5 separate regions of the Homo sapiens genome follow, and regions 1, 2, 3 and 5 are each linked to region 4. Evidence: fine-mapped expression QTL. A gene starts in region 4. Each other region holds a variant in brackets. All regions are shown on one strand. Distances are from middle to middle. Region 1 overlaps RIN2 (Ras and Rab interactor 2). Region 2 overlaps RIN2 (Ras and Rab interactor 2). Region 3 overlaps RIN2 (Ras and Rab interactor 2). Region 4 holds the start of RIN2 (Ras and Rab interactor 2). Region 5 overlaps RIN2 (Ras and Rab interactor 2).

What was found. PIP is the estimated chance that this variant, and not a neighbour inherited with it, causes the effect.
Region 1: its variant is fine-mapped to the expression of RIN2 in whole blood (TOPMed, PIP 0.97). The same link has a PIP of 0.9 or more in thyroid.
Region 2: its variant is fine-mapped to the expression of RIN2 in tibial artery (GTEx, PIP above 0.99). The same link has a PIP of 0.9 or more in blood mononuclear cells, breast, esophagus mucosa, esophagus muscle, fibroblasts and gastroesophageal junction.
Region 3: its variant is fine-mapped to the expression of RIN2 in whole blood (TOPMed, PIP above 0.99).
Region 5: its variant is fine-mapped to the expression of RIN2 in whole blood (TOPMed, PIP above 0.99).

What each region holds. Positions count from the first base shown.
Region 1 is chr20:19,866,859-19,873,279 of GRCh38, reverse strand. The region is part of intron 2 of RIN2 (Ras and Rab interactor 2); the gene reads right to left. Among named protein-coding and RNA genes, the nearest start is that of RIN2, 110 kb to the right of the region's middle. The variant A/C (reference allele first, on the strand shown) is at 2,469.
Region 2 is chr20:19,995,079-20,001,499 of GRCh38, reverse strand. RIN2 (Ras and Rab interactor 2) reads right to left here. Exons shown (of 13, transcript NM_018993.4): 12 at 4,658-4,821; 13 at 1-887. The coding sequence ends at 564. Among named protein-coding and RNA genes, the nearest start is that of NAA20, 19 kb to the left of the region's middle. The variant A/C (reference allele first, on the strand shown) is at 2,957.
Region 3 is chr20:19,987,011-19,993,431 of GRCh38, reverse strand. RIN2 (Ras and Rab interactor 2) reads right to left here. Exons shown (of 13, transcript NM_018993.4): 10 at 3,121-3,426; 11 at 1,133-1,264. Among named protein-coding and RNA genes, the nearest start is that of NAA20, 27 kb to the left of the region's middle. RefSeq lists an enhancer at 1-427. The variant C/T (reference allele first, on the strand shown) is at 3,089.
Region 4 is chr20:19,754,915-19,761,335 of GRCh38, reverse strand. RIN2 (Ras and Rab interactor 2) reads right to left here and starts at 3,078. Exons shown (of 13, transcript NM_018993.4): 1 at 3,009-3,078. RefSeq lists an enhancer at 2,115-2,689.
Region 5 is chr20:19,788,767-19,795,187 of GRCh38, reverse strand. The region is part of intron 1 of RIN2 (Ras and Rab interactor 2); the gene reads right to left. Among named protein-coding and RNA genes, the nearest start is that of RIN2, 34 kb to the right of the region's middle. The variant A/G (reference allele first, on the strand shown) is at 3,113.

The sequences.
Region 1 (6,421 bases), 110 kb before region 4:
GGTGGCACATGCCTGTAGTCCCAGCTACTTGGGAGGCTGAGGCATGAGGATTACCTGAGCCCAGGAGATCAAGGCTGCAGTGAGCCGAGATTGCACCACTGCACTCCAGCCTGGGTGATAGAGCAAGACTCTGTCTCAAAAATAAAATAAAATAAAAATAAAAATAATAAAATAAAACATTAAAAAAAGAAAAAGTGTGTTATATATTTGTATGTAAGTGCTATTTGAGTCTATGTTTAAATCAGTTGTGACATTTTACCATTTCCCTCATTCACTAATGAGTTTAAAAAATTTTAAGCAGTTTTTAAAACATTTAATTAATTTATTTATTAAATATATGTAGAGAGTACAAGTGCAGGTACCTTACATGCATATTTTGTGTAGTGGTGAAGTTTGGGCTTCTGCTATATCCATCACCTGAATAGTGAGCATCATAATCAATGGGTAATTTTTCAACCCTCACTCCCTACCCAGCGTCCCACATTTTGTAGTTTCCAATGTCCAGTATTTCACTCTGATGTAGTTTTTAAAAAGTTTTCTATTAATGTCATGATTTTACCTTTAGAATATTTATCCTTTAAGACTGAACATGTATAGCTGGGGGCCACCAGAGCATGATGCTGCAGGGGAGTGCAGATGATGTGGGGTGAGTGTGCTTCAGGGGTGTCCCACTTGAGGTCAAGGAAGCTGGGTTGTGTAGGTCACTGTTGGAGAATTGCTCCTGGGCGTATTAACTTGATGGCACCCTCAGACGGCCAGGCAGAAAGTTGCAGTAAGACGTGCATAGGAGTGTATGGTAGGAGGAAGTGAGCGAGGTACAATCGCACATGCATCTTATCCATATTTTATCCCCACTCCCACCTTTGCATTTGGACCAGTGCCCCCACACCTTCCCTACTTCGTATATCCAAATTCTGCCTATTCTTCAAAGACTAGCTCAAGCCCATGGTATTAGTCCATTCTCACACTATTATACAGAACTTCCTGAAACTGGGTCATTTATAAAGGAAAGAGGTTTAATTGACTTACAGTTCCTCATGGCTGAGGAGGTTTCAGGCAACTTACAATCATAGTGGAAGGGGAAGCAAGCACCTTCTTCACAAGGCAGCAGGAGAGAGACGAGTGAAAAAGGAGGAACTTCTGAACTCTTATAAAACCATCAGATCTCGTGAGCACTCAGTTACTATCACTAGGCATGGGGGAAACTGCCCCCATGATCCAATAACCTCCCACCAGCTCCCTCCTTCAACACCTGGGGATTACAATTCAAGATGAGATTTGAGTGGGGACACGAAGCCTAACCATATCACCCACCCTGTTCATGGGCTTTTCCCTGAGCACTGCCCCCATAATGATCTAACTCCATTATTGAACCAGTGAAATAACTTAAGAGTCCACAATTCCTAAATCTTAGCGTCCTCCTCATAAACATCATTGAAATAAACTGGGGATCCATTTCAGCATTTTTAACTGGAAATATAGTCCCTGTTAGGCAGAGTTCCTGCCTATGATTCCTTAGAGAAGCCGCGATGCGTACATTGGTTCTACCTCCTTCAGAGTAGAGACCCCACAGAAGTGGAGATAGGAAACAATCCTCACTAGCACTGATCTATCTTTGTTGAGTATTTTGACACGTGGCAATGCATGCCCTAACTCCCAGCCAAACCTAGAACAAGCCAACCTAGAACAGCTAGAATGTGTGACCTAAGTTGGCAGTCTGAGGAAGAGGAAATTCTGAAACCACATAGTGCATGATGCACTGCTATTTACTAGCAACAGTGATTTTTCTCACCTCAACCCTGCTCCCTCATTTTAGTAGGACATCTCTGAGGTGCACGATATATACTGTCTCCCAAAGATACCTCATGAGATGAAGCTTCAGCTGGGTGTCAATTTGTTGCTCAGGGTGGTCTCAAACTCCTGGCTTCAAAGTGAAGCCCCGTCTTGGCCTCCCAAAGTAAGATTACAGATGTGAGCCACCTACCTGGCGAGAGTATCATTTTTGTTGTTGTTCAGCTCTTGCAAAATAAATTCAAAGAAAAAGAAGTGTCACCAAATGAATTAGTCCTCTTAGGATCCCCATGTGCCTTGGTCCAGATCTGCTCCCATCAGACCACAATGAAAGCTTTTAAGATATCCCTCCTGTCTTTCTCTTCATAATCCCTTGCCTGCTTCTCCATGGTAATCAGCAATCAATCCTGCAATACAAATGAGCCCTTGAATCAGCTAGGAATTTTTATGTTGGAAGTAACAGAAAACCCCATTCAAATTGGCTTGAAGATAAATAATAACATCTCCTTAAACAGTATTTGTTAGTTGCAAGGGGACCGATAGTAACTACACAGTGGAGAAATTAGGCAACACCTTGTCCAGGTGATCCAAGTCAGCATCCCAAACGAAGGCAGCCAGATGCTGTGTTCCTCCAGACGTGATGCCCTAGAAGAACACAGCATCAGTTAGAGGATATT[A/C]CAACAGAGAGTGTGTATGTGGAATCTCATCAAGAAGAAACATCATACCCACTCCAACTGAGGGACATCCCATCATAGAACTGGCCTAGATTCTACATCAATATCAATGTCGTGAAAAACAAAGAAAGGCTGAGGAACCATTTTTTCTTTCTTTCTTTCTTTTTTTTGAAAGAGTCTAATGCTATAGCCCAGGCTGGAGTGCAGTGGTGCGATCTTGGCTCACTGCAACCTCTGCCTCCTGGGTTCAAGTGATTCTCGTGCCTCAACCTCCTGGGTAGCTAGGATTACAGACGTGCACCATCGTGCCTGGCTAATTTTTGTATTTTTAGTAGAGATGGGGTTTCACCATGTTGGCCAGGCTGGTTTTGAACTCCTGGCCTTATATGATCCACCCACCTTGGCCTCCCAAAGTGTTGGGATTACAGGCTTGAGCCACTACACCTAGCCTGAGGAATCACTCTTAAAAAAGATTAAAGAGGCCTGACACCTTCCTGCAAAAGACATGATCTGGACTAGTTCCTGGACTAGAGAAAGAAACATGCTATACAGGACATTATTGGGAAAAATGATAACAATTGGCATCTCGGGTTTAGATCAAAGTATCATATGATGATTAGGCTCCATTCTTGGGTCATCGAACTGTGGGAATGTAGGAGAACCTCCATGTTCTTCAGAAGTATATACTGGTGCAGTAAGTGGTGAAGGGGCCTGATGGCTACAATCTACTCTAACCTGGTTCAGAGGCTGATACAGGAAATGGGGCAAAATGGCACAGGTCAGTGAACCTGTGCAAATAGTACAGAGGAGTCCTCAGAACTATTCTTGCCACGGTTCTGGAAGTTTGACATTATTTCAAAATAACTTGGCCCCGTGAGGTGGCTCACGCCTGTAATCCCAATGCTTTGGGACGCCCAGGCGGGAGAATTGCTTGGGTCCAGCACTGTCATCTGGGCAACATAGCGAACCCCCTTCTCTACAATAAATAAATAAATAAATAAATAAATAAATAAATAAATAAAATTAGCCAGGCATGGTGGTGCACACCTGTATTCCCAGCTACTTGGGAGGCTGAGGTGGGAGCATCACTTGAGTCTAGGAGTTCGAGGCTGCAGTAGCTGTGATTGCACCACTGCACTCCAGCTTGGGCCCCAGAGCGAGACCCTGTCTCTCAAAAAAAAAAAAACCCAAGAACAAAATAAAAGCTTAAAAATCTCTAAGCAGTAAAAGTGATTAAGGGATGGCCTAAAGTCCAGGGTGAGGGTGGAGGCTTCATGGAGTGGCATGGGCCAATCCAGCAGCTCCACAATTCAACCAGGCCCCATTTCCCCAGCTTTTTCTATCTCTTGGTTTGGCCCTTCCCTGGGGTCAGTGCTAACCCATCTTCAGTGTGGCCAGTGATGACGTGGCTTCGTCTCCCCACCTCACCATGTCACAAAAGTCAGTAACCTCTGAAGGAATAGTGAGGGTCTTGTTCCCCAGAAACCCTTCCTCTCAAGTTTGGGAAATCCTGCCTAAAACACAAAATCTAATCAAGGTGGCCCTGACATCAGTCCAAACTCTGCCACAGCGTATATGGTCTTCATCAATTTCATTCAAACCTTTATTTGCATTTCTAATCCCTCTCTCCAGCGCAGACTCATCCACCCTGCGTGTTTCTGTATACATCACTCAGTCTCTGTTTAAAATGCCTCACCACCTGGTGAACACTTTTTTTTTTTTTTTTTTTTTTTGAGACGGAGTCTTGCTCTGTCACCCAGGCTGGAGTGCAGTGGCGTGATCTCGGCTCAACTGCAACCTCCACCTCCCGGTTCAAGCAATTCTCCTGTCTCTGCCTCCCGAGTAGCTGGAATTAGAGGCACATGCCACCACACCCAGCTAACTTTTTGTATTTTTAGTAGAGACAAGGTTTCACGATGTTGGCCAGGTTGGTCTTGAACTCCTGACCTTAGGTGATCCACCCCCCTTGGCCTCTCAAAGTGCTGGGATTACAGGTGTGAGCCAGCATGCCCAGCTAGTGAACACCTTTTTATCCCTCAAGACTTAGGTCAGAGATCATCTCTGTGCTAGCTTCCCTTCATTACCTATTCCCATTATCAGCCCTTCCCCTTTCTGGGTCCCCAAGGTCCCTCTGACAGCCTCCACAACATCATGATTATAGCTGTCTGTTTATCTCACATAGGCTGTGTGCCCCTACAGGATGGAGCACGGCCTGTTGTCGAATGTTCACGGTCTGCCCAGCATATCATAAAACCCGGATGAAACCCTAAGACCTGCCCTGCTCATTTCACGTGTTTCCTGGCCCAGTGAAAGTGTGTGGTATGAATTCAGGAGCGAATCTGTAAGAGTACTTCAAACAGTGCTGGACACTAAATAATTTACTAAAATAAAACGTTGTCCAATAAAATACATCTTCATTCCTTTGGGTATTTTACTGCATTAAGGAAAATTACCCTGTTACTCAAGCCACATGGAACCACTAAGAAACTCATAACGTAGCCAGGCGGTGGAAAGCGCGTATGTCCCAATTTCCTGTTTTTCTCCGAGACGCTGCTGCCCCAGCCTGGGTCAGGCGATGCGTGGTTTGTGGCCTGCCACTTGGGCAGCCCTGGCTCAGAAGAAAGGCCATCTTCATTTTATATGGGAAAGTTGGAGAAACCTCAGAAGAGCCGTGGTGCATAAATATCACGTCACCAAAGCAGGGAACTGGCCACACTCACAGGCCTCCTTGGGGCCTGGCTTGGTGTCAGTTCCTGCTGTGGAGCTTGGTTCGGCTCTTTGTGCACCAGCATGCCCCACGCCAGACATGACGACACTGATGGCTTTTGCAGCCCCAGCCACAGAACAGGCTGCTGATGCTGCCCTTTCTTGTCCCACGAAAACGCCTTGCAGTTCAGAGAGCAGGCCGGCTCACCCAGCTGCACAGCATTTTCAGAGCAGCTTTGGGGCCATCATCCAGCAAAGTCTAAATACCCTCCCAGTTTGATTCATCTCTCAGTTTTAGACAAACCACAACTCTTAAAATTCTCCCACTGCAGAGAAACTTGGTGGACACCACCATCTTAACTAAACTATTGGAGCTGGTGTCACCAGGAATAAAACAAACCTGCCACATGTGCCTCCTGATATCTGGGACTGAGGAGGCCACCGCATCACTCTGGGGCATTCCTGCCACGGGTGCAAAACATGAATCTACTGTGAGGAGCATCAGACAAACCTAAACTGAGGGTCACTCTACAAAAATGATTGGCCTGCATGCTCTAAAAACGTAAAGGTCTTAAAAGGCAACAAAAGCTAAGGATACATTTCAGAGTGAAGGAGTCTCTAAACAGAAGTGACAACTCAATTCAATAAATGATCCTCAGTTGGATGCTTAACTGAAAAAAAATGCTGTAAATGACATTATTGGGATAATTGGAAAAACTGAAATATGGGCAACAGATTAAAGTATTGCATCAATGTTAAATTTCCTGAATTTGGTAACTGGATTGTGATGATGTAAAAATATGTCCTTGTTCTTAAGAAGTAAACACTAAAGTATTGAGTGGTAAAGAGGCGTGACTCATGCAACTTACTGTCCAATGGTTTAGAAAAAAGTGTGTGTGTGTGCACATGAGCATGTGTGCACGTGTTGTGTGTGGAGTGAGAGGTAAAAAAGAGAAATAAAACAAATATGGTAAAATGTTAAAATGTGTTAATCTGGATAACTGACATCTTATGAGTCTCTGTACTATACTTGCAAACTTTGTGTAAATTTGAAATTATTTAAAAATGTAAAAATGCATTCCATTAAACAAAAAAAAAAATAAAAATAAACAAGATTCTTAGTGATGGTTTAACGTTTTCGCACAGCAAAACACTAACATGTGTGTTGAAAAATAAATTAATCTGGCCAGGTATGGTGGCTCACTCCTGTAATCCCAGCACTTTGGGAGGCCAAGGCGGGAGAATCGCTT
Region 2 (6,421 bases), 240 kb before region 4:
ATTATAGAATATTTTAAAGTTACAAAAATATTTTAAAACCAATCCTGACAGTTTACCTGCAACTGCTATAAAAATTTCTATGAAATATATAAAAACATGAAGGCTCTTTGTAAAAAAAAAAAAAAAAAAAAAAAAAAGGAAAAAGAAAGGAAGGAAGGCAGGGATGAAGCCATCCACAGGAGTGAGAATCACCTGACGCACTGCATCGCAAGCATCTGCTGTTGAATTCAAAAGAACTTGTATCTTAAGTGTTTCTTCTGCACATATACATACCTGTAAGCCAACCTAGAACCTGACTGGGGGTAGGTAGCAAACAATCTCAGGACACTTGAACCATCAGATGCAATTCTCCATTGCCAAAAGAGAATCCTACTGTTTCACAAACCTCAGCTACCTTGCGTGGCTAAAGTTGCCCTTGGCCGAGTTGGCCTGTGGATGGCTTAGTCACTACACTGAGGGGTCCCCGAGGAGGTGACTGCTTTTCAAGCTCAAGCATGTAGAAGCGGGAAGGCAAGGCTTCCAGCTCCCCTTTGGATGCACCACTGGGAAGTCCCGCCTGTCTTCTAGGAGGTGGTGAGGTCTTCTTCCCCGTTCTGGAAAATGATGCCATAAGGATCGTTCTTGATGCGTTTGTAGACAAAGTGGAAGATGTGGGGCTGTGGTCGGCTGTGCAGCTCCGCCTTGATTTTTTGAGGGTAAGTGTCCTCTGCCAGCTGCTGCCATGTCTCGTCAACGAAGAGAAAGAGGCTGTACTCCTCAGGGTCCCCCACCTTGAACTTCTCAGCGCAGATCTGACACACATCCTCAGTGGTGATGTAAGGTCTCACAAGGAGGGTCTTTCCTGTGCAACCACTGTTGACCTCCTGAAATGCAACTCGGAGGTAATTCTGCAGGTGGAAGAGGAATGTTGAGACAGTCAGAAGAGAAAACTAGATAGTGAGCATGATGGGGGACCAGGGGAGGGGGTAACTGTAAGCCATTTCCAGGCCCTTTCCTGTCATAATGTCCGATGTCAGGCCACGAGGCTTCGAATGGCAAGGAAAGAGGCTGATCTGACTTTGGACAGTGGCGAAGATGACTACATGATTCATTGCAACTGTAAGAAGCAGGAAGTCCATGCAGCCCTGGTTCTGATCTTTCCATTTCCCTCATAAGGTCTGGTTAAGAAACCCCTGCTTAAGAGTGTGAACCACATCCAATGCTGGGTTTATTCCCAGCTTGAAAACTAAACCAAATAGCACAAGAGTATGAAGGAAGTCAGCAGAAAGAGATTTAAAATATCTAGACACAAAAGCACGTACTGTGCTCACTTTTTGTTTTCTTCTTTTCATTTTAAGAGATGAGATCTCACTATATTCTCCAGGCTGGACTCATACCGCTGGGCTCAAGTGATCCTTCTGCCTCAGCCTCCTGAGTAGCTAGGTGTACAGGTGCATGCCACTGTACCTGGCTTGTGTTCACTTTTGACAAACTTTTTAAATAAATCCTAAGCAAGGGCAATCATTTAGGTTGAATCACACACACACAAAATGCGCTGACTTTTGACTATTTTTTATCTCCCCCAAATGGTGATTTCATGTAGTTCAATCTAATACAAGGCTCCTAGTGGCTCTGGGCACAATGTGGAAAAAGTCAGAAGGAGAAGAATGTTGATTTTGCCAAATACTTTGCAGATGGAGCTGATTACATGCAAGGTGGTGCTGCAGGGAATTAAACAAAGACGTTTGCAGGCTCAGGTGCTGCAATCATGCCAGGTACATGCTATCATGAAACATGTAAACCTGTGGCCTTACAAGATACAAAGCCCAGACCAGGCATAAAGAATCTTAAACTCACATCAGGCTCTCCTAGATTTTGTGACCCCAGATAACTTTGCTTCTGTTTCCTTAACAGTGGAGTTATCAGATGAAATCTAGAACAGCCAGTTAAATTTGAGTTTCAGCTAGAAAACAAATAGATTTTTTTCTGCTAAATCTGGCAACCCTGCTCAGCAGTGAAGGGAAGGAGGGCTCTCTGCCCAGGTGCCTGCAAGGTCACCACGAGGGTTTCCTGGGATAACAGAAGGGAAAGCTCTTGGGAAGGACAGTGAGCTCTGCACATGTAAGATATGTTTCATATCTGCTTCCAGTGGGGACTTTTGCTAGCCCAGTGACTTTGCAGGAGAGGTGAGCTAGTGGGAGGTGCCCAGATTGACAGTGACACTCTTTGAACCTTTTTTTTTAAGAGACAGGGTCTACATAATCCCTGTTTGACTAGTGCAGAAACTGAGGCACAGAGAGGCTACGTAACTTGCCCAAAGCCACACAGCTAGGACGTGGCAGATGCAGCCCCACCGCCTTTACCACCAAGACGTACTACCTCTTCCCATGTGAGAAGACCTCTGTGTCTGTGGCCTCTGATTTAGGGGTTCCAGATGGAGCTTTGGGTCTGAGGTTTTGCTTTGACCCCTGAGCCGAGTGCTGAACATTTCCTTCTTCGGTTACACTCTGAGAAGGCATGCACCTCCAAGGTGAGCAGGGTCAATGAGGGCAGGAGGGGACGGCTGCAGAAGAAGGCAGCTCTATGGTGTCTGAGGGTCTCCAGGTGAAGAGGTGGAGGAGGGTGTGTTGGCAGGTGGGGAAAGGAACAATGAACTTTTTTCACTTCCTCTGTTCTGCCCTAGGCAGCCCCTCCCTGGATGGCTATATGATGGCACCCCAGGGGTCTGCAGGCACTGAGTGGCACAGGGACCTTCTTAGTGCAACAGGGTGGGGAGAGTGCAGTGCGTGTATTCTCACTCTTTAGGTTTATGCGCTCCAGAAGGAATTTCTGAGCATACTGCAATCATGGAGAAGAATGAGCTGATCTTGGCTTTCAAAGATGGGCTTGCCTTTTTGTTTGTTTGTTTTTGATACAGGGTCTCATTCTGCTGCCCAGGCTGGAGTGCAGTGGTGTGATCATGGCTCACTGTAGCCTC[A/C]AACTCCTGGGCTCAACGGATCCTCCCACTTTAGCCTCCTGAGTAGCTGGGACTACAGGTGTGCACCACTACGCCTACCTAACTTGAAAATTTTTTGTTGTGGTTGTTTTGTCGAGATGGAGTCTCACTTTGTTGCCAAGGCTGGTCTCCAACTCCTGGCCTCAAGCGATCTTCCTGCCTTAGCCTCTAAGGTGCTGGGATTACAGGCATGAGCCACCTCATCTGACCCTCTATTTTCAGAGCTCTTATAAAAAAAAAAAATGGCCAGGCGCAGTGGCTCACGCCTGTAATCCCAGCACTTTGGGAAGCTGAGGCGGGTGGATCAGTTGAGGCCAGGAGTTTGAGTCCAGCCTGGCCACCACGGTGAAATCCCATCTCTACTAAAAATACAAAATAAATTAGCCAGGTGTGGTGGTGAGCACCTGTAGTCCCAGCTACTCCGGAGGCTGAGGCAGGAGAATCGTTTGAACCTGGGAGGTGGAGGTTGCAGTGAGCAGAGATCGTGCCACCACTGCACTCCAGCCTGGGTGACAGAGCGAGACTCTGTCTTAAGAAAAAAAAAAAAGCAGGTGAATCTGGATGTGTAGACAAATCTGTCTTGCTTTCCACATCCCTGCTTGGAAACTCATCATGGGGAACATAGAAACAAACCACAGGAAGGTTTTATCATTTAATTTAAAACCTTCAAAATATTATTTGCAGACATTTGCCAACTCACTCATTATTTCATAGACAATGAGCAAATCAGGAATTGTGTTGGGTAAGGATTTCTTTGTTTCTTTTTTGAGACTAAGTCTCACTCTGTTGTCCAGGCTGGAGTGCAGTGGCGTGATCTCGGCTCACTGCAACCTCCATCTCCTGGGTTCAAGCGATTCTCCTGCCTCAGCCTCCCAAGTAGCTGGGATTACAGGTGCCTGCCACTACACCCAGCTAATTTTTGTATTTTTAGTAGAGACAGGGTTTCACCGTGTTGGCCAGGCTGGTCTCGAATTCCTGACCTCAGGTGATCTGCCCACCTTGGCCTCCCAAAGTGCTGGGATTACAGGCGTGAGCCCTGATGCCTGGCCTTGGGTAAAGATTTCTATAGCCCTAACCCACCTGTCCATTCTAAGAAACAAGCTCACTGGGAGTCCCACATTCCCAAGCAGCAGCTCACGGTCAGGAAAAGCCCTGGCCAGGGAACCTGAGCAGGACTCGCTCAGATGCTCGCCTGGTCACTCTGCGCCGTGGACGGCTGCCATAGCTGTTGCTGCTGCTGCTGAGATTCTGGGGTCTTCTGTTTTGGAGAGTGGGCGAGAGAAAAGGGAAGGAGACATCGCTGTTCCTCTCCCTCTTCCCAAAGAGAAACTAGGCCAATTGCATCGCGTAACACAGCGGCTGTTTCCTGATGAAACAAAATCTCCAACGTCTGTGCCAAGTGCTTCCTCCTCCTTTTTGACTTATCGTCTGCTTGATTGGGCAGAGATTCTGCCTTAATTCAACTTGGTTTTCTTAAAGACAGCAAAACTTGGGCCAAGTATCCCATGCGTATATAAATGTAAAGAAAACAGATCAGTGTAACAAGGCCAGAGGGTGGTTTGAGATATCCCTTTCCTGCCAAATAATTCAACACAGTGGGGACCTCTGAGCTGGGATGTGCTGGGTGAGCCAGCTCCGCATTCCTGGAGGACGAAGGAAGCAAAGGGGTGGCCAGCTGCACACCTGGAAGTCGTCCACAGAGGGGATGGTCCGGTTGGTGGTTCTCCGTTTGTGCCACTGCCTCAGGGTGTCTCTGGTTTCTGAGCTGAGCAGTCGCGCTGCTTGTTCTTCTTGGAAATTCTTTATCAGAGAAAGTGCTCCATATGCGCTTGTCAAGTAATAGCCTCCTGAAAAGAGCAGAAAGAGTGGGTCCTCCCAGTGCCAACCTCCGCTCACGGGTGATAACAGGGGATGCCAGCGTTAGAAGGCATGTTTTGTATTTTTAGTATTTCTTCAACATGCATTTCCTTGTGGGATCACAGAAGCACACACCCAAGAGCATGGCACTCACTCCTCCATCCATCCCTTCACACAGCCATCCCACAGAGATTTCTGGAGCGACCCAGGCCTGGGAGGGGCCAAGGGGGCACAGACAAGCCAGGCTGACAAGGTTCCTGTTTTTCAATGATGGGATTTCCATTCTAGTGCGTGAGACTGACCAAGCCACTAAAGTGTTTTTTTTGTTTGTTTGTTTTTTTGTTTGTTTGTTTTTGAGACGGCGTCTTGCTTTGTCACCCAGGCTGGAGTGCAGTGGCACAATCTCAGCTCACTGCAACCTCCGCCTCCCAGGTTCAAGCGACGCTCCCACCTCAGCCTCCCGAGTGGCTCGGATTAAAGGCATGCACCACCACGCCTGGCTAATTTTTGTATTTTTAGTAGAGATGGGGTTTCACCATATTGGCCAGGCTGGTCTTGAACCTTGGCCTCAACTGATCCACCTGTCTCGGCCTCTCAAAGTGCTGGGATTACAGGCATGACCACCATGCCCAGCCGAAATTATTAAAGTGCAATTATGAAAAATGTTTGCCAGGAGTAGTTGGGGTATTAAGGCCTGACGGGGAGGTGGGGGGAAAGTCAGGCGTGTGAGGTGATCCAAGGCCAGTATCCCCTCCATCAGTCCAGACTCGTGGCAACACTTGCTCTTGGCTTTTTCTTTTAGAAATTGATATTTTCTATCTCTGATAAACAAGAATTTGGTTTAAAAAAAAGTAAAAAGGAAAAAACGCAATGAGTATTTTCTAAATCTTAAGTAAACTATACACTTTGAAAGAACTGTTCGCAAAAATGTGGACACTTCAAAAATAATTTCTCTCCCTTGATTCCCTTTCTTACCCCCCCCTTCCTTTGGGACTAACATAACATCTGGCATTTAGGATAAAATAATTTACAGGAAAGTGATGTTCCTGTGATGGTGTATTTAGGAATGATCTCTTATGTTCTTGAGGAGTGTAAAAAGGGCTGACGACACTGTAAGATGTGTATGTATTCCTTCATAGTTTTTGTCCTAACATATAATTAGGTGCCTGGGGAGGAACTTATGGTCTCTGCGCTGAAGAGCCACTAGGGGTCGCCCTGAATGTTTATTAAAAATTCCCTAATTGGGCACAGCATATTTTAGATTTAGAGACATTCTTTGTCAAAATACTCATTGAATCTCTACTGTGAGCCACAGCTACAGAGAAGAAAGTAGGTTTGTAAGAAATAGAATCTGAGTCCCCACTCTCCAGAAGTTTATGAATGTGTTTTGTTTTTTTTTTTTTTTTTAAAAAAAAAACAGACACTGGCAATTTATTCCTGCAGGGACCAGAAGTTAGTTTGGCGAAATGAGTTTTGTGCAGAAGTGTCACCTTTAGGGCCAAAGTATTTAGCTTTATTCATGTGAGACCCTGCAGAAGCCTCTCTCTGGTCAATAAGTGGCAATATGCAAGATGGCAACTGTCCCCTCCA
Region 3 (6,421 bases), 230 kb before region 4:
AGGACTGAGGAGACTAAGGGGGCACATTCTGGGGGTGGTAAAAATGCATTTCATTCCCTCCAGGGAAAATGCTGGGATGACTCATTCCTTAGGGAATCCTGTCAGAGATGGACCTTTCTACTCAAGCCCAGACTGAAACTCACGGGAAAAAAAAAAACGAAACCGTGACAATCCCCCCCAGGGCTTGTCTGGGCTTTTATCTGGATATATAAAAATGGATTAAGAGGATTCACAGTGCACAGGCCCTGATTTGTTCTCCTTTGAAAAGATAAGCTCACATAGAGTCCCAGTTATTTCTGCGTTTCAAGGCTGTGCACTACTGTGCCAAACATCCTAATCATTTCCATGTAAAATACCTAAGCTATGTGTAAGGAGAAGGAATTTCTGCTAAGACATGTTGGGGTTAGGCAGACACAAGGAGAAGGAACCCGAATGCCAACGTAAATTGAGAGCAAACTGCACAGATTCCACACCCCTGTATTTTTACTATAAAAATGAAAAGATACTTAAAAAAAACTGGAAAAAAATTAATACTGTTTTCACCTTGAAAACGAAATTTTAAAAAATAAAAACAAAGCCAAGCTTTTATCCATTTCACTAATATAAGAGCAGGTTATTTTCCTGGCAATGGAAATATCCTCAACAAAAGTTTATAATTTCCTCTTGGAGCCAAAGAAACCATTTCTTCCAAAAAAAATGGCATTTATTCTACTGAATGTATTTTTTTTATTGCCATTAAGCAATCTTAGTGAAGTATAGTTAAGATGGGGTTATATTTTTTCTTTGTGTTTTTCCTGACTTTTCCAAATTTTCTACCACGAGTGTGTATTACTTTTGCAATCAGAAAAAGGTTAGTACACTCTTTTAAATTAATAAAAAATTCAGTTAACACTTAAGATGTCAAAAAAGCACCCAAGTAACTGCTTCATGGGTGCAGAATTTTATTTTAGGGTGAGGAAAATAGTTTGACACTAAATAAAGGTGGAGAATGCATGACATTGTGAATATACTAAATGCCACTGAATTATTCACTGTAAAATGATTAATGTTATGTGACATGAATTTCGTCTCAATTATAAAAAAATGAAAAAAATAGCACCCAGTTCCTTCAACTTTTCTCAAAAGCAGTTACCTTCTCCATGTAACAGCGATGGGTCTAGGAGCTCCATCATGTACTCGATTTCAGTGTCCAATTCAAGCATGTCACACTGGGCTATGACATAGGTCAGGACTGGCAAGAAGTCATCAGCGCCATACATCCTCCCTGAGAGCAGGAAGAGAAGGAGATGGAATATTTTTACCAACTTTTCTTTCTTTCACATCCTTCTTGCTGCTTTTATTAGACAGCAAGGAGTCACTCTGGGGGGAACTGTGCTATTTATAAACAGAGGTGAGTGTTTCTGGAATCCTATGTAGCCTCTGACCCTCCCAGCTGCTAATGTTAGAGACCAGCCCTTACAGTTTCAGAATGAATGTCTATGAACCAATGAACACATTACAGATTTTCTCCCTACTTTTATAATTTGTATAAAATTATGTGATAGAACAGAATACTCGTTAAAATATTTTAACTTTCAGCAAACAAGATTATAAAATGCTTACAAAATATTTACTTATGCTAATTCTTTGTGTCTTACTTCCTCTTTCTTGCTGTGCACATTATTTACAAACATAATGACAAGGTCAAACTCAAACCAGGAATAAGCTAACTTTGCTCTGTATTTAATGTGAGCACACAGTTAATTTCTTTAAACGTGCCAATTCAGTACATGTTGAATATACACATTGATTAATGGAAATATATGGCAAAAAATGTTAGTGTTTACTTCTAGTTTTCTTTACATCAGTGGTTCTCAACTGGAGATAATTTTGTCCCCCAGGGGACATTTGGCACTGTCTGAAGACATTTTTCATTGACATAACTGGAGGGTGGGGATGCAGATGACATCTGGAATGCTGCTAAACTTCCTACAGGAAGCAGGGCAGCCCCCAAAAGAAGAATTATCCTGTCTACATTAATGTCTTTAGTGTGTGTGTTGAGGAACTGTGCTTCAGAAGAGCATAATCCTTCTGAATTATTTGGGGAATTCAGATATTCAGATATTATTTGGGGAATTTTTATAAATAACTGTGAACTATAGAAAATATGTTTCCTATATGTGAAATATGCTTGCAAACTTGTGAGGTGATGTTCACTTGCTATCATTACCACGCCCAGGAGCTCATATTTTAACTTCTTCACTCAACAATTCCCAAAGTGCACACACATTCCTGTCTACTCAAGCAGTGGTTAATACAGCCTGTGTTTTCTCTCTGCTGCTTCTCCATTAAGCAATTTCACTCAGAAGAAAAGTTCGTAATCGTCTTCAGAATTACAATAAGCTTACTGAAGACCTGGGACAATGCAGGGCTCCATTACTATCCAGGATTCATGGTTACCCCTGCATCTACAGGAAACAACAAGGCTAAATCTGAGGGCTGGCTTTCCAAGATTGTAACTCTTCGGTGAATTTCAATTATATTGCTTCAGCTTGTAGCAAAGAAGGGCTAGCCAATGAAGCGGCTCTAATGAGGCCTCATTATAACTGAATGTTCAGAGTTTCTTTCACATACTATAGGTCATTGACACAAACCCTCATTGGCCAAAATGTTGTAATGATAATCGCTGACATTTCCATTGCACTTGGGGCTATGTGTGGGCTGTCTCAGCTAATCCCCACCTCATGAAAGAAAGGGTGACATCCGGCTAAAGACGCAGAAAACTACAGCGTGCAAGGTTGATTAAGGGGGCCAAAGTCCCTCAGTTAATTTTCTTCTTCTCGGAGGGAAGATTTGAACTCAGACTCCAGAGACTGAATTTGTAACCATACTCTGAACTAAATCTTTAATTAAATCGGCCTGGTACAAAAATCTTGTTGCCCTCATCTGCTTACATTTTAATCTGTTGCATGTGACTAATGTGCCGGATATCAGAGAATCACTTGTAGTTCTGTAAGCCACTTGGTGAAATCAAGAGACCAAAGGGAGGAGAAATTGGGAATCAGAAAGCCTGACAGGAGAGAGGCCTGTCCCCGGCCCGGAAGGGAAG[C/T]GGCACGAAGCCTGGGCTTCCAGCGGCCTCACCTGAGTTGTTCTCCATGACCGTGTAAATGAGCTTGCAGACCCGCAGCAGCAGCATGACCTTCTTTTCCGGCGAATACATCTTCTGCATGGTCATGAACTTGACTTTGATTTTCTCCACATCCACAAAATCAGGGGTCGGGGCGAAGACCCCCAGCTCCTGCGGATTCCTCTGCCGCACAAGCTGCAGGTTCTCCTTGAGTTGCTTCCATGAGCCATCGGCCATGTGAAAGTCCTTCAGCATGGCCTCCACGTGCCCCTTGAGGGGCTTCAAGATGCACTTGTGCATGGCTTTTTCCAGCACCACATCTGCCAAAGAAAGTGTAGCTACTATGACTATTGTCTGAAGAAAGAAGAAATGCAACATCTGCTTTCTTACAATGGACATCTGCAACTCTATGCATTGGTTGCAGGCACACAAATTGTACACCTTAACATCCAACCAACAGACAACACCAAGCAGCGCCATAACTCACATGTTAACATTTTTCTCTGAAAAGCCAGGAAGACCGAATCTTCCCCAATGATGTCTAACTTGCATATAATCAATACAATGAAATATATTTGTTTTAATTACTTTCATGCCCTATCCCTGTAAGTACAGGCAAATATGCTAGAAGACATTCTTTTGACCTAGTCCTTCAACTGGTCATCCAATTAACAGGAGAGCAAAGATGTTATCTTAAAGGAAGGATTTTCTAATAATGAGCATTCAACATCTCTTAGAATATTTTCTGAGGGCCAGGCGTGGTAGCTCACATCTGTAATCCCAGCACTTTGGGAGGCTGAGGCAGGCAGATCATTTGAGGTCAAGAGTTGGAGACCAGCCTGATCAACATAGTGAAACCCCATCTCTACTAAAAATACAAAAAAATTAGCTGGGCATGGTGGTGCACGCTTGTAGTCCCAGCTACTGGGGAGGCTGAGGCAGGAGAATTGTTTGAACCCAAGAGGCAGAGGTTGCAGTGAGCCAAGATTGTGCCACTGCACTCCAACCTGGGTGACAGAGTGATACTCCATCTCAAAAAAAAAAAAAAAAAAAGAATGTTTTCTGAGGAAATAGATCCACCTAAATATAGTATGTGATCTTGGATCAGATTCTGGACTAAAAAATTCTTCATTTGCTATAAAGGACATTAGTGGGGCATCGAATACAGCCTGCAGATAAGGTAATAGTGCTAACAAGGCATCAGTGTTAATTTTCTAGGTCTGATAATTATACTGTAGTTATTAAACAGAATAGCCTTGTTTTTAGGAAATATGCATTGAAGTATTTAGGGGTAAAGGGATATAATGTCTGCAACTTAAATGGTTCAGAAAAAATGAGAGACAGTGTGTGTGCACGTATTTGTGTGCATGTATGTGTACGTGCATGTATCTGTGTGTGTGCACGCGTGTGTGTGTGTGTGTGTGAAGAGAGAGAAAGAAGAATGAGGCAGATGTGGCGAAGTGCTAACATTTGGGAATCTGAGTGAAGGGTAGATATTTCTTTATGATATTTTTGCAACTTTCCTGGAAATCTGAAATGATTTCAAAATTAAAAGTTAAAAATGTGTGAAATGTGTTTCTGTTCCGAGTTAGGAAACACCTTTGGGTGTGGGAGGCGTTATTCTTCCCTCCTTCATTGAATGGTTTCCCAGTGGAGTAGCTTTCTTGGCTAATACTAAAATGACCAGTACCATAAATCCAGAGATGCGGGCTGAAGGCTATTTATATAATAATAACTCCTCTGCTTTGTCAATAGCAGCTTTTTGACCTCACACGTTTGCACATTCTCATCTGAGCCCCTTGGGTTCTGCTGCAGCATCTACGCATAAAATGATGACACCTTAATTTTATTCCATTTGGGAAGCCAATGGGTCCACTTACATATAAGATCAGAAATAGTTAAGTTAGGCCAGGCATGGCGGCTCATGACTGTAATCCCAGCACTTTGGGAGGCTGGGGTGGGCAGATCACTTGAGGCCAGGGGTTCAAGACCAGCCTGGCCAACACAGCGAAATCCCATCACTACCAAAAATACAAAAAATTAGCTTGGCGTTGTGGCGCACACCTGTAATACCAACTACTCTGGAGGCTGGGGCATGAGAATCTCTTGAACCCTGGAGGCAAAGCTTGCAGTGAGCCGAGATCCTGCCACTGCACTCCAGCCTGAGTGACAGAATGAGACTCTGTCTCAAAAGAAAAAGCAAAAGAAATAGTTGAGTTGTCTCTCTGGCCTTTGGAATTCCTGACGCTGGATCAGATCTTATTGAATTCAAATGATTACCTATTATTAGAAGGCCAGGGACAAAGATAAATCTAACGCAGAGGTACAAACAATGAAAACAGTCCCCCAAGGTTAAAACTGAGGCCAAAAGTTAACGCTGACCCCACAATCATCAGATTCCCCAGCCCAAGTTGTTTTTTTCTTTCTCCTCTTCCAACTTATCCAGGAGATCTCTTTGTTTAAATACAAAGGTTTATATAACTATAGAAATCAAGGTTGATGCGAAGGAGGTTATAAAGTAGGAAAAAAAGCAGAACAACTTATTCACATCTGGCATTAAAACAAATTACTTGGTTTACATTGGTTGCTTTGTGTTAATAAGCTCGTGCAACTTCATAGCATCTTTGACTTTACCTTATATCATCATTATGATAAAAAATTAATAACAGAAATTAATATTGAGTGCTCAGATGGGCCAGCCTCCATCTAAGTGCTTTACTTCACTATCATCTAATCCTTGCAATAATTCTATTATTTTTGCACAATACTAATATTATGTCCGTTTAACAGATGGGGAAACTGAGGCTCAGAGATGACTAATGGCTTGATAGAAGCCACACAACTATTTTAAATAACCATTTATACAGCTTTTCAAAGTAAATAATCTTTTAATTGTAAAGTTCAAGTCACTTTATAAATACTCGCCAGTTTATTCCTCTCATCCAAACATTCTGAAAGCTACATTCATGGTTGTAAGTGACCACTACTTGGTTAAAATAGGGTCACCACGGGAGGACAAAGGCCATGTCAGTCATTAATTAGAAACGTAAATGAATGTCCATAGTAATGTTATTTATAATAGCCCCAAGCTGGAAATAACCCAAAGGCCCATTTGGACAGAAATGAATACATTGGATATATTCATTCAATGGAATACTACAATGAAATTCAGACAATGGAATGTATTTATTCAATGAAAAAGCTCACATTACTGCTCCAGAACAACATGGATGCATCTCATGAACGCAAGGCTGTGTGAAAGAACCCAGACACAAGAGTATCTCCTACAGCATTTCGTTTATATGAAGTTCAAAA
Region 4 (6,421 bases):
GCATCCTAAAACACAACTCGGTGAATCCTGCTCTGTACATACACTGCATGGAGTGTGCCTCTGGGCAGGTTCGCCTTTAGCAAGTCCACTGTGCTGCGGCAGAATGACAGACTAATTTTAGGCTTTCATTTCCTCACCTACAAAATGCAATGAATACTACTGTTGTGAGAAACGACTGAGATACTATTTGTAAATCCATTTTATAATGTGCTACAAAAATGTTACCTGCTTTCTTCAGAGGCATTACAGTCCTGAGGGTATACTTCTTGCTGTGCAACTTCTCAAAATGCCTTGACAAAGGGACACTTTTGTTCATTCATTCATTCAACACCCCCTCCTTGAGTGGTAGGTCTTAAGGGCTATGGCCTGGTTTTGGACCCTGGGAAGCTTACAGACAGTGGGCAAGTGAGGTCCACTGTATTGCTTTAAGAGATACATACACATACACACACACAAGGAATTCTGGTGGCAGTGAGGGGGTGTCTTACTGGGGAAAGGAGGACAGGGTCGGGGAAATCTTTCTTGCTGAAACTATTAGGATTCTTGAAGGTTCATTAGGTAGGTTGGATATACAAGGGGAATTGGGCACAAGGTCAAAGCACTATAATACAGAGAGTATGTGAAGAATGGGCCTCCCATTAATGGGTCACACGAGCATGGACCTCTCAGGGTAGCATACCCTGTGTTTCATCTGTGATACCTGATTCATCTGTGTCCTCCAAGCAGAGGAAGAGGGTTTAGCTAAGCAAGGAGGTTCTTTCTGGAAAGTGGAAGTCCTGAAGTGGGTAGTGACCCTTGACTTTGGATAAGGTGTATGGCAGGACACCTTGGGTGGGGATAAGAGTGCTGCTGCGAAGTTATCTTTAAATAAGCACACGCCATAGCCATCCTGGGAGTCAAGCTCCCTCCCACCTGCCCTACACTAGAGGTCAAGTGTGGGCTATTTCAGTTTCCTCCTCTGCTCTGATGAACTGTCTGCAGGAGAATGTTTCCAGACAAAGGTCTTGATAGCAGGTTGGTTTTCCCCGTGTCTCCAGCCTCCAACTACTGAGAGCAAGTCTCCAAACCCAAAAGCTCCTGTCAACAGCCTTCTTCCCAAGTTCCAAAAGCAAGGGCCCTTCACTGTCCCGGGACCCTACCCATCCCTAGCCTGTGATGCTCTCTCTGGAGGTGCCAAAGCACGGGAGTGCATGAGTATTCCAGAGGCAATATTGGAACCTGAGGCAAAAAGGAAAATTAGCACCTCTATATCCACTTATGACAATATCCTCCTACATTTGAATTAGGTAAAAAGTTAATAAAAGCTCTGCATTCAGTGAACGTGACTACATCTGAAGCCAGAGTTGCTCAATCTGTTGCATGCCACTGTCAACTCTCAAACCACCAGGCAAGGGAACAAACAAATGGGGAGGTGGGGGAGGGAGACTGGATATGACTGTTCCCATTGAACAATGAAGCAGGGTTCTTTTTTTTTAGACAGAGTTTCACTCTGTCACCCAGGCTGAGTGGAGTGGCACAATGTCGGCTTACTGCAACCTCTGCCCCCAGGTTCAAGTGATTCTCCCACCTCAGCCTCCCGAGTAGCTGGGACCACAGGCACATGCCTTCAGGCCCAGCTAATTTTTGTATTTTTAGTAGAGATGGGGTTTCACCCTGTTGGCCAGGCTGGTCTTGAACTCCTGACCTCAAGTGATCTGCCTGCCTTGGCCTCCCTAAGTGCTGGGATTACAGGCATAAGCCACTGCACCCGGCCTATGAAGCAGGGTTCTAACAACACCCACCTGTATTTAAAATGTTGATTTTTGCTTATCATGAATTTTTTACATTCAATTTGGTTTTGTTAAAAAGATTGTATTAAAATACTATTTATCTTAATGATGGAGTGCTGCCCTGTGTGTTTCTTTTTTCCCAGTAAGCCCTTTGCACTCCCAGCAAGTGTTTCTTTTTGCTTCAGTATTTACAGTCCTTTTGGTCGAAGAGTACTCTGATGTTTCCTTACCGATGACAGCGTGTTCCTAAGAAACCCCAATGTGCCCAAAACCGCGCAAGGAAGTGCCGCTACACTGCGGAATTAGGAAAGCCCCAGGGATTTAAGAGCTCTGAGAAGACAGGCGCCTCTCAGGGCCCAGGGGACCGATCTTGCCCTGTATTTCTTGGCAACATATCATAGGCTTTCAAGCTGAACTTCTGCAAATCCTGCTGTCCCCGCGCGGTCGAGGGGCGCGCCACCGCCGGTGGGTGGACGCCGAGCTGGTGGGAGCCCAGGCCAAGGGTGGAGGCCAAGCCCAGAAGGGGGCGGGGAGGCCTCAAAGTGGGAAAGTGGCCCCGTCCCTTCCCGGCAGGAATCCGGGGCTCCTCCTCCGCCCGCTGCGCAGCCATCAATCACCGCGACAGCCCAAGTGCCCCCTGCCCGGACACAACAACCCTCCTGCTTTTCCACCCGGGGGAGGAAATCTCCGGTCGGAGCATCTGCCCTGCACACTGGCTGGACTCACCAGTGGGGTCCGCGCTGGGGATCAAAGCTGTGCGACACCGGGTCTGACCCGCGCGCTCAGGCGCAGGGAGCACTTGACACCCCACAGGCAGCCCTGCAGGTAGAACTCCTCAAAGGTCCCTACCAAACTCCGTCCGGTGCACACGCACGCACACCCGCACCTCCGCACCTCGAGCCATAGTGCCTGCACCCTCCAGCTGTCCCTCACCCCAGCCCCGCACAGGTCAGCTGAGGACACCCGGTGACCCTGCCGGGACCAGCGGCCACCTCGCGCTCCGGAATGTCACTCTGCCCCTTGTCCCCACTCCCTGATCCCCCTTCCCCCTTCCGTTCCCCACGATCCCCGAGGACGCGCTCTGGCTGTCTTCCTCAAGTCCCCTCCGGAGTAGGGAGAGAGTGCGCACAGCAGCACCCACGTCTGGAACCCCAGAGAGCCCCGCCCGTGCCCGGAGCCTCTCCGGGCTCTCTAGGTGCGGGCACAGGGGGTGGGGTCTCCGCTGCCACCGCCCCTTACCTCTCGCGGGCCCTCCCCGCAGGTCCCGGAGGCGGGGGCGACCGGTGGCCCCAAAGACGAGCGCGGGGCTGGGTTTCCCCGCCCGGGAGGAGCAAGAGGAGGAGGAGGAAGAGGAGGAAGGGGGAGAAAGGAGGGGAGGGGAGGGGAGAGGAGAGGAAAGAGGAGGAGGGGAGGGAAGGGCTTTGTGTTTGCCTCGGGCCGTCCCTCGGCAGTAGGGAGCCATCCCCCTCCCCCAGCCACCTTCCTGAGCTCGCAGAGGAGATGGGGCGGGGGTGATCGGATCGGAGGCAGCGACCAAGGCGCCTGCGCGACCCCAGGTCCGGCCCATCCCTCCATTCCCTGTAACCGCCAGCCTCCGCCCCTCTTGACAACCACCCGCTACGCTTACCCTGTTACAAGGAACCCAGGCTGCAACCAGGAAAAACTGCCATCAGAAAGTTTATCTAAGCCGGAGCAAACTTGGCTGGACCGGCCCCTGACCCGCCTTGGCGCTGCCGCCCCTGTCTTCTGCGGTCCCCGGCCAGGCGAGGACCAGAGTTTTGTTCTCGGAGATTCTTGCCTTTCTTGTTTTAGCACAAACGCGCACGCACCCCTTTCCCATAACGAGCCCCTCCGCCCAACTACAGATCCCGGGATCTGTTGCAGGGGCTGGAAAGGCCCCACTCGAGAGGCCTGAGCTGGCTGCGGCTCTTGGTTCCGGGGCAGGTTCTCCAGGGTTGGATACGCTCTGGACGCCTGGGCGGGTTGTTTTGCTTCGGCCTCGCTGGCCAGGGGCCCGCCCACCCCGCCTGGAACGCGGTTTGGATCGGCGCTGGGAGCCCTCCGTAACCCCAGCTGAAGGCCGCGCAGGCAGGCGGGGACGCCGGAGCTGCGGGGCCGGTTCCCAGCCAGCATCCAGCCTTTTCGGAATCAGGCGGGTCCCTGGTGATTCGCTGGGTTTTCCCACTTCCCACGGGGACCTCACCTTTGGGAATTAATTGCTGACAGTGTTAGAGTTACAAAGTAGCCAGTGTCACGGAGGGAACCTCAAAGAGACAAAGGGACACCTCGAAGGTGTCAGAGAGACGGTTGTTTTGGACAGAAACAGAACAGCGAAGCGGAAAGAAAACAGACCTTATTTCTGTTCTGTTCCACTTCAGATAGTAGCAGAGGAGACTTGGATTTCATTGGTGTTGGTTTTCGTGATTCCTGCCTTCTAAAATCCCAAGACTTATTTATCATTTATCATCAGCTCAGATCCCAGGAAAACAGTCCACTGCACTTCGGTTTCTGCTCCAAGTCACCCATTAAATAAATAATTGAACACCTGCTGGTGCCAGGCGCAGTTCTAATGCTTGGGATATGTCGGTGAACAAAGCAAAGGTCTCCCTCACCTGGGGGAGCTGAAGGCCTGCGGGGAAGAAGTGGGAGACAGAGGGTAAACCATGGCCATCCCTAAGTAAATTATTTGGGGTGTTGGAAGAGGTCGGTGATAGGGAAAACAAGAAAAAGAATATGGGGGCCCAGAGTGCTTGTGTCTGGAGCAGGTCACAGAATTAAATAGATGGTGTGTGTCAGGCCTCTGAGCCCAAGCCAAGCCATCGCATCCCCTGTGACTTGCACGTATACATCCAGATGGTCTGAAGTAACTGAAGATCCACAAAAGAAGTAAACATAGCCTTAACTGATGACATTCCACCATTGTGATTTGTTCCCGCCCCACCCTAACTAATCAATGTACTTTGTAATCTCCCCCACCCTTAAGAAGGTTCTTTGTAATTCTCCCCACCCTTGAGAATGTACTTTGTGAGATCCACCCCTGCCCACAAAACATTGCTCTTAACTTCACCGCCTATCTCAAAACCTATAAGAACTAATAATAATCCACCACTCTTTGCTGACTCTCTGTTTGGACTCAGCCCACCTGCACCCAGGTGAAATAAACAGCCATGTTGCTCACACAAAGCCTGTTTGGTGGTCTCTTCACACGGACGCGCATGAAATTTGGTGTCGTGACTCAGATTGGGGGACCTCCCTTGGGAGATCAATCCCCTGTCCTCCTGCTCTTTGCTCTGTGAGAAAGATCCACCTACGACCTCAGGACCGACCAGCCCAAGAAACATCTCACCAATTTCAAATCCAGTAAGCGGCCTCTTTTTACTCTCTTCTCCAACTTGCCTCACTATCCCTCAACCTCTTTCTCCTTTCAATCTTGGCGCTACACTTCAATCTCTCCCTTCTCTTAATTTCAATTCCTTTCATTTTCTGGTAGAGACAAAAGAGACACGTTTTATCCGTGGACCCAAAACTCCGGCGCCGGTCACGGACTGGGAAGGCAGCCTTCCCTTGGTGTTTAATCATTGCAGGGATGCCTCTGTGATTATACACCCACGTTTCAAGGGTGTCAGACCACGCAGGGACGCCTGCCTTGGTCCTTCACCCTTAGCGGCAAGTCCTGCTTTTCTGGGGAAGGGGCAAGTACCCCAACCCCTTCTCTCCTTGTCTCTACCCCTTCTCTGCCTTTCCTGGGGCAGGGGCAAGTACCCCTCAACCCCTTCTCCTTCACCCTTAGCGGCAAGTCCCGCTTTCCTAGGGGCAAGAACCTCCCAATCGCTTATTTCCGCACCCCAACCTCTTATCTCTGTGCCCCAATCCCTTATTTCCGTGCCCCAACCCTTTCTCTGCTTTTCTGGAGGGCAAGAACTCCCCACCCCTTCTCCATGTCTCTACTCTTTTCTCTGGGCTTGCCTCCTTCACTATGGGTAGGCTTCCACCTTCCATTCCTCCTTGTTCTCCCTTAGCCTGTGTTCTCAAAAACTTAAAACCTCTTCAACTCACACCTGACCTAAAACCTAAATGCCTTATTTTCTTCTGCAATGCCGCTTGACCCCAATACAAACTCGACAGTAGTTCCAAATAGCTGGAAAACGGCGCTTTCAATTTTTCCATCCTACAAGATCTAAATAATTCTTGTCGTAAAATGGGCAAATGGTCTGAGGTGCCTGACGTCCAGGCATTCTTTTACACATCAGTCCCTTCCTAGTCTCTGTGCCCCGTGCAACTCGTCCCAAATCTTCCTTCTTTCCCTCCCTCCTGTCCCCTCAGTCCCAACCCCAAGCGGCGCTGAGTCTTTCTAATCTTCCTCTTCTACAGACCCATCTGACCTCTCCCCTCCGCGCCAGCCCAAGCTAGGTCCCAATTCTTCCTCAGCCTCCGCGCCTCCCCTCCCTTCATCCCACACCTGGTCCGACTTATAGTTTCATTCTGTGACTAGCCCTCCCCCACCTGCCCAGCAGTTTACTCTTAAAAAGGTGGCTGGAGCCAAAGGCATAGTCAGGGTTAATGCTCCTTTTTCATTATCCCAAATCACATAGCGTTTAGGCTCTTTTTCATCAAATATAAAAACCCAGCCCAGTTCATGGCTCGTTCGGCAG
Region 5 (6,421 bases), 34 kb before region 4:
GACTGAGACTTCCCTGCGAGTCCGGGTTAAGCAGCTGGAACAACTTGGGATGCTGTCCTGACCTTCCTGGGCCAGTGTCACCGCATGTGTACACAAGAGCATTTCCTCAGCAAAGTGCCTGTGTTTTAAATGGGTTATTGAACTTTAACAGGGTTGTGTTCCTAAGAGAAATGCAAATTCTTTTAAAACTTACATTGGTTTCTCAACAAACTAGAGTTTCTCTAAAGACAACTGAAGTGTTTCTACCTTTAAGGATTCTAAATTGTCTTAAATTTTAATTTAATTTTTCTATGGAGGAAAGCCAAATTTATGAAGGGGATTGTCTTGATCAGAATTATTCATGAATTAACCAAATGCGGAGTAAGCATCTAGTAGGTGCGAGGCGTTGTGAGAAATCCTGAGTCGCTGTTCTCATAGAAACCCTGAAGTCCTTATAAAGAAATTTATAAATTAAAACCTACAAGGTAATAACAGGTTGAAGAAAATGAAATACAACTAGATTTAATTTTTCTTAATCCAGTAGTCACAACTCTAGAAACTGAAGTAGTTGCTTATTTTTCCACATATTTTGATAGCATCATCTAGAAGGTTCATATGAACGTTATTCATCATTACCTAGTATCACTGTATCTTTTTTTTTTTTTTTTTTTTTTTTGGATACAGGGTCTCACCCTGTTGCTTAGGCTGGAGTGCAGTGGTGCAATTTTGGCTCAAGGCAACCTCCACCTCCTGGGTTCAAGTGATTCTCCTGCCTCCGCCTCCCGCCACCTCACCTGGCTAATTTTTGTATTTTTAGTAGAGATGGGGTTTCGCCATGTTGGCCAGGCTGGGCTCGAACTCTTGACCTCAGGTGATCTGCCCGCCGTGGCCTCCCAAAGTGCTGGGATTACAGACGTGAGCTACTGCACCCAGCCCACTGAATCTTTTTTTGAAGATTTGCACATGCAGGCCACTTGCTGGGTGCCATTTTGAAATCTGCTACTGGTGGAGTTCATCTCTCACTAAAGCCTTTCTTTTCTTTTCTATTCTGTACATGTTGACTATAGATGCATTATTCTTTGGATCCTTGTGATCTTGGGTATATTATTTTCCCTGATCTTCTCTTAAAGGAAGTAAAATTGGTTCAGTTCATCCTGCCTTAGTGTATCTAAGCTTCACAGATGAAAAGATTCAGTGACCAATTTGATTGATTTTTGTTAGGTACTGAATCCTGCCTGTGTTATCTTCATGACTGGACCACATCTCTGGTGTTGGCTCAGGCTAAGAATTTACTCACCCAGCTATGAGCTTTCTCATTCCAATTCCCTGTACTTCCCTATCTAGCAACCCCAGCAATGCGTCAGTAGCTACCATGGGGAACCCAAATCTAGGCTTCTCCAGTCTTTCCCCACAGCTTTTCCTACAAAACGATGAATTGTCAACCTTAGAAAGTGTTAAAAACATTGTTCTGTAATCCTAATAACCTGGAAAATTTGGAGTTACTCAAAGTAAAATAAGTTTCTTTGTGCAAGATTTCTAGAGCATCTCTGCTAGTATAATCTAAAAGGGTCAAAGTATGTTCCAGCATCTCCCAAAACCCTTTGAGTTTTCATTTGTGAAAACCTCAGGATTAGGCCAGCTGTGAAGATAGTGCCCTGGAGTACTTCTTTTCTCCCTCCCTTTTTCCTTTCCTTTTTTTTCTTTAAATTAATTGTACTAGAGAAAGGCATTGCCATCTCCCTCTCTGGGGTACGAGAGAGAGAAAGACTAACATTCAAGGAAAACCATGCTATTATCACAGGAAAGCCCCTCTGTGGCTGAGCCATCCAATATAGCAGCCACGGGCCCTGTGTGGCAATCGAGCACCTGAAATGTGGCAAGTCTGAATAGGAATGCTTTGTAAGTAGAAAATATGCTCCAGGTTTTGAAGACTTAATACAAAAAAATTTTAAATGCTTCAGTAATAAATTTTCATATTGATCATATGTTGAAATATTGAATTAAATACGATATCTTATTAAAATTAATTTTACCTATTGCTTTTGACTTTCTAAAATGTGACTACAAAAAATTTTAAATTACATATGCAACTCATGTTATATTTCTATTGGACAGTGCTGCCTGATGGAATAATTCCCAAAGCCTTACAGGTCATCAATACCCCTTGGCTGGGCTGCTGTATTTGCTGTATTCTGAACACATACACACAAACACAATGCTATATTCTGAACACACCAGACACACACACACACACACACACACACACACAGTGGCTGCTTAGCCTAAAATACCTTGCCCTCCGCAGCCATCTCCTGTTACCATCCTGCCAAACTTTTAAGATCCACCTCAAAACATAATAGGCAATTGCTAGCAGGTTTTCAGAAGTGATTCCATGCCAGGCACTATGCTGAGCCCCCTCCTCCCTCAAATCACCCCGACAGCCAATGAAGGGGTAATAGAATATGCTCATTTTGTAGCTGGAAGAGGTGAGGTAACCTGCTTAACGCTATGTGCTGGTCAGTGGCAAACCTGAGTCTTCTTTGGCTTGTCAATCACCAAATCATCTTTGGTTTGTCATCACTGTCCCCCCTTTAGCCCCTCTGGTGGCTCTTGCCTCACCTCCCCATGTGTGCGCTAAGTCCTCAATGGCAGGCACCCCTTGCTCCTGTGAGCTTTGCTTCCCTCACTTTCCAGATCTTAGTTCAAGTGTCTTTCTCACAACACACATCACTCATTACATCCTATTACCACTGCTTTGACATTTTGTTTCAGGCACATGATACCCTCTGATGACCCGGGTGGATTCTGCTCTTGTTTAAATGTTCACGAGAAATGACACTATGAGGCCTCAGTCAATATTTGGTTAAGGTAAAGCATGTTATATACTTGAATATCTTCCTTTCGCCATCTTTTAGAAATGTATATTTTTGCTGTTAAAAATGGGAATTAAGTGCATTGATGAGGGTGACCATTACAGACAGGTAGACCCTAAAAAGCCAAGGCAAACCACGCCAGCTGGAAGTGGAATTTCCGCTGTGGTAGAATTTGCCTCTGAAGACCTTCACAGGCAGTTCCTCTGTCCACAAAGAAGAATTTCTTTCTTTCAGCTCATACTGTCCACTTGGCCTTGTCA[A/G]CTGCTCTGGCCATGTCCCTGGAAGGAGTCCCACTTGTCCTTCCTCTTCCCCCAACCATGGAAACAACCTGAGAAAAAGCTGGATGGGGGAGGGAAGGAAAAAATACACATTTCCTTTTCAACATTATTAAAGGAATGAAGATAATAATTATGGGTAATTCTAAAACATGAACATTTTAGGTAAGTTTAGATGACTTTATTCCTTACCTGTTGCCTGAAGTGGACACGATACAGGCAAAGAAAGCCTTGCTAGTTGCACTAAGACAACCCCAGTGCTGAGTTTGCATGAGAATATGAGCATTTCCTCAAAATGCCTCCTGTTAACAGTTCTAGGAATACTTATTTCAAAGAATAATTTATCTTTGGAAAAAGAAATTAAAGTTCCTATGAAAAATAAGGATTTATATTTGTTATATTTTTCATTCCCTTTCCAAAGACATTTGTGTAATGAAGAAAATTTAGATTACTTTAAAATGAACTTCTTAGTTAACTTTCCTCAACTGATGATCTCTGTTTTCCCTAGAGAAGTCATGTTACTGTAATTTTATGAAGCTTTCCTCACTTCCACATAATAATATCTGAGGCAGGGGGCACATCTCCTCTTTGGTGGATCAGGTATTCTTTCAAAGATCAAGCTAAGAATTTTGTTGACCTTAAATTATCTAAGCCTTAGCACTGTAACTCCCAAATTATATTCTTTGGTGTCTTCTTAAATATGTAAGAGGAAATTAAATAACATCCACAGAATTGTATTTTAGTCATTTTCTCAAATAAATTCATTCACTTTTTTGGAAAACTTATCTTTAGAAATGACCAGTAGTTTTAGAAATACATATATATCTGTGATAATTTTCCAATCATTTCTAATTCTATTTTTCCAATTAAAGAAATGGGACAAGTAATTCATTTGTTTATTCAATTTCAAAGCCACTGGCTGATTTTGTTCAAGGTCTAAGCTATACATTACAGGAACACACATGAAGTCCTGTTTTTCTTTGTGGGCCATCTGAAAGAGATGCAGAAGATGAGTGTAGTTTTGGCTGGGGAGTATGGGGAAAGGCATTTTAGTTTAGACAGAACCACTTGGTTTAAAGCAGCTGTGCCAAGCTACAACCATTAGAACACTGCTTAGCCCTTGGGGCATATTGAGGATTCACATGGAAAGGCAGGCCAGGTCATGGTCTGGACAAAGGGAAGGGTTTCCATTTTACAATGCAAACCTATGGGAGCTAGTGACCATCTCAGAGTTGGGGTGAAGTGCTGGAGGCTGGAAGGACCATTTAGGGCAAGTAAGAGAGACCTGAACTAAGGAATATGGGCTTGAACTAAGAAAGAAGGTGACAGACATGAAGAAGGGCCAGATAAGGCCACCCAAAGGATAAGGAAGTTGGGAGGGGGAATTGGTTGGGGTAAGTGGATGATTATTCTATTTTTATTAATTTTTTTACTGCTGGGGTAACCCTATGTTGCCCAGGCTGGCCTTGAACTCCTCCTGGACTCATGTCATCCTCCTACCTCAGCCTCCAGAGTAGATAGGACTACAAGTGCAAGCCACAGAGCCCAGCTTATCCTAGATTTAGATAAGTTAAGCCCAACTTGAAAAATCCAACATTAGTTGAAAAATTAACAGGAATAAATGGATATTCTGTATCAGGATAAAAAGTCCCCTTCCCTAAACCCACATACACAAATAGAGAATGAAAGCCAAGTGGAGTAATAGCTGCCCCCTAATTAATAAGGCTAGAGATCAAGTTATCTGAGTGGGAAGCAGGCAACCTGACTTGCTAGCCTTGTAAGACTGGGGCAGTTGCTGGTGTCGGTGGGTGTATGATTATTTCATTTTTGAATAAATTGAGGTTTCTAGGGAGATCCAGATTGAGAAATCCAAAAGGCAGTTGAAGAATTACTAGAGACAAATGAATAAGTCTATATTCAGAAAACAACTCATCTGCAACGAGGGAAATGATGGTCTATAGAGGCCAGATCACCTTCAAGCCTTCTGTTCAATTCTGGGTGCCACATTTTGATAAAAACGTGATAAAATTAGGGCCCGTCAAGAAGTAGCTAGAAATGAAATATGTGACCATGTTTAGGAAAAGATGTTTGAAGGAGTCTTGGATGATTGACTTGGAGAAAAGAAAAAGCAGGGAAGCCTCTGTCATGTGAGTGGAATTAGACTTGCTCAGTGACAGATAAGAGGAGAACCAAAGGAGAGAAATTAGAGGAAGACAAATTGCAACTCGAGGTGAGGAATCTCTGGCTAGCACTTTGGGACTGGGTGATTTTCTCCTCATCAAAAATATTAAAGCACAGACTGAACAACAACCCATGGGGATGCATAGAGGGGACTGAAGCACATGGCAGGGAACCAGGCAATAGTTGGATGTCCCTGAGAGTCCTACGACCCCATGGGAGGAGGCAGATTGGAACAACAGTTATAAGATTAGGAGCCACCTACAGGGAGCAGGCAGCTAAAGCTACAAATAGGTAAAATGCCCAAGATACCAACTGCAGCAAGAGAAAGTAAGTAAACCACAGAAAGAATCTTGTACAAAATAAAAGAAACTAGGCAAGATAGAGAAATCATAAAGGACTAGGAAGAAAATTAAGAGTGTCACATAACAAAAGACAAGGGAGAGGAAATTCTATTGAAGTATAATTAACATACAGTAAAGTGCACACATCTTAAGTTAAAAGTATTATTTTAAAAAATCTTCGCATATCCCAAGTTCACGAAGATATTTCTCTTGTATTTTTTCTAGAAGGTTAATTGTTTTAGTTTTAACATTTAAGCCTATGATCCATCATAAAATCATTTTTGTGTATGGCATAGGAATCAAGTTTTATTTTTTTCCTCAGGAATATCAACTGACTAGCGCCATCTGTGGAAAAGACTCTTCTCCCGCCTCCACACCCGCTTAATTGCAGTGTAGCCTTTGTTGTAAGCCAAGATACTGCATTATCTTGTAGCTCTGTCTCTGAACTCTCACTTCTGTTCCATTTACCTATTTGTCTATCCTTGTTCTGATGCCACAGTCTTCATTATGTAGCTTTATAGCATGTCTTAATAATTGGTAATGTAAGAGCTACAGATTTGCTGTTGTTCTTAAATATGGCTTTGAATTTTATAATTATTTTTCAGTTTCACCTACAGTTTGGAATTAACTTGCCAATTTAAACAGAAAATAATTCTGCTAGGACTTATTTGAAATTTTAATGAGTCCGTAGATCACTTTGGGGATAAATGACATCTTTAAAATATCTCAATCCATGAACATGGTATGTCCTTCTATCTATTTAGGTCTTCTT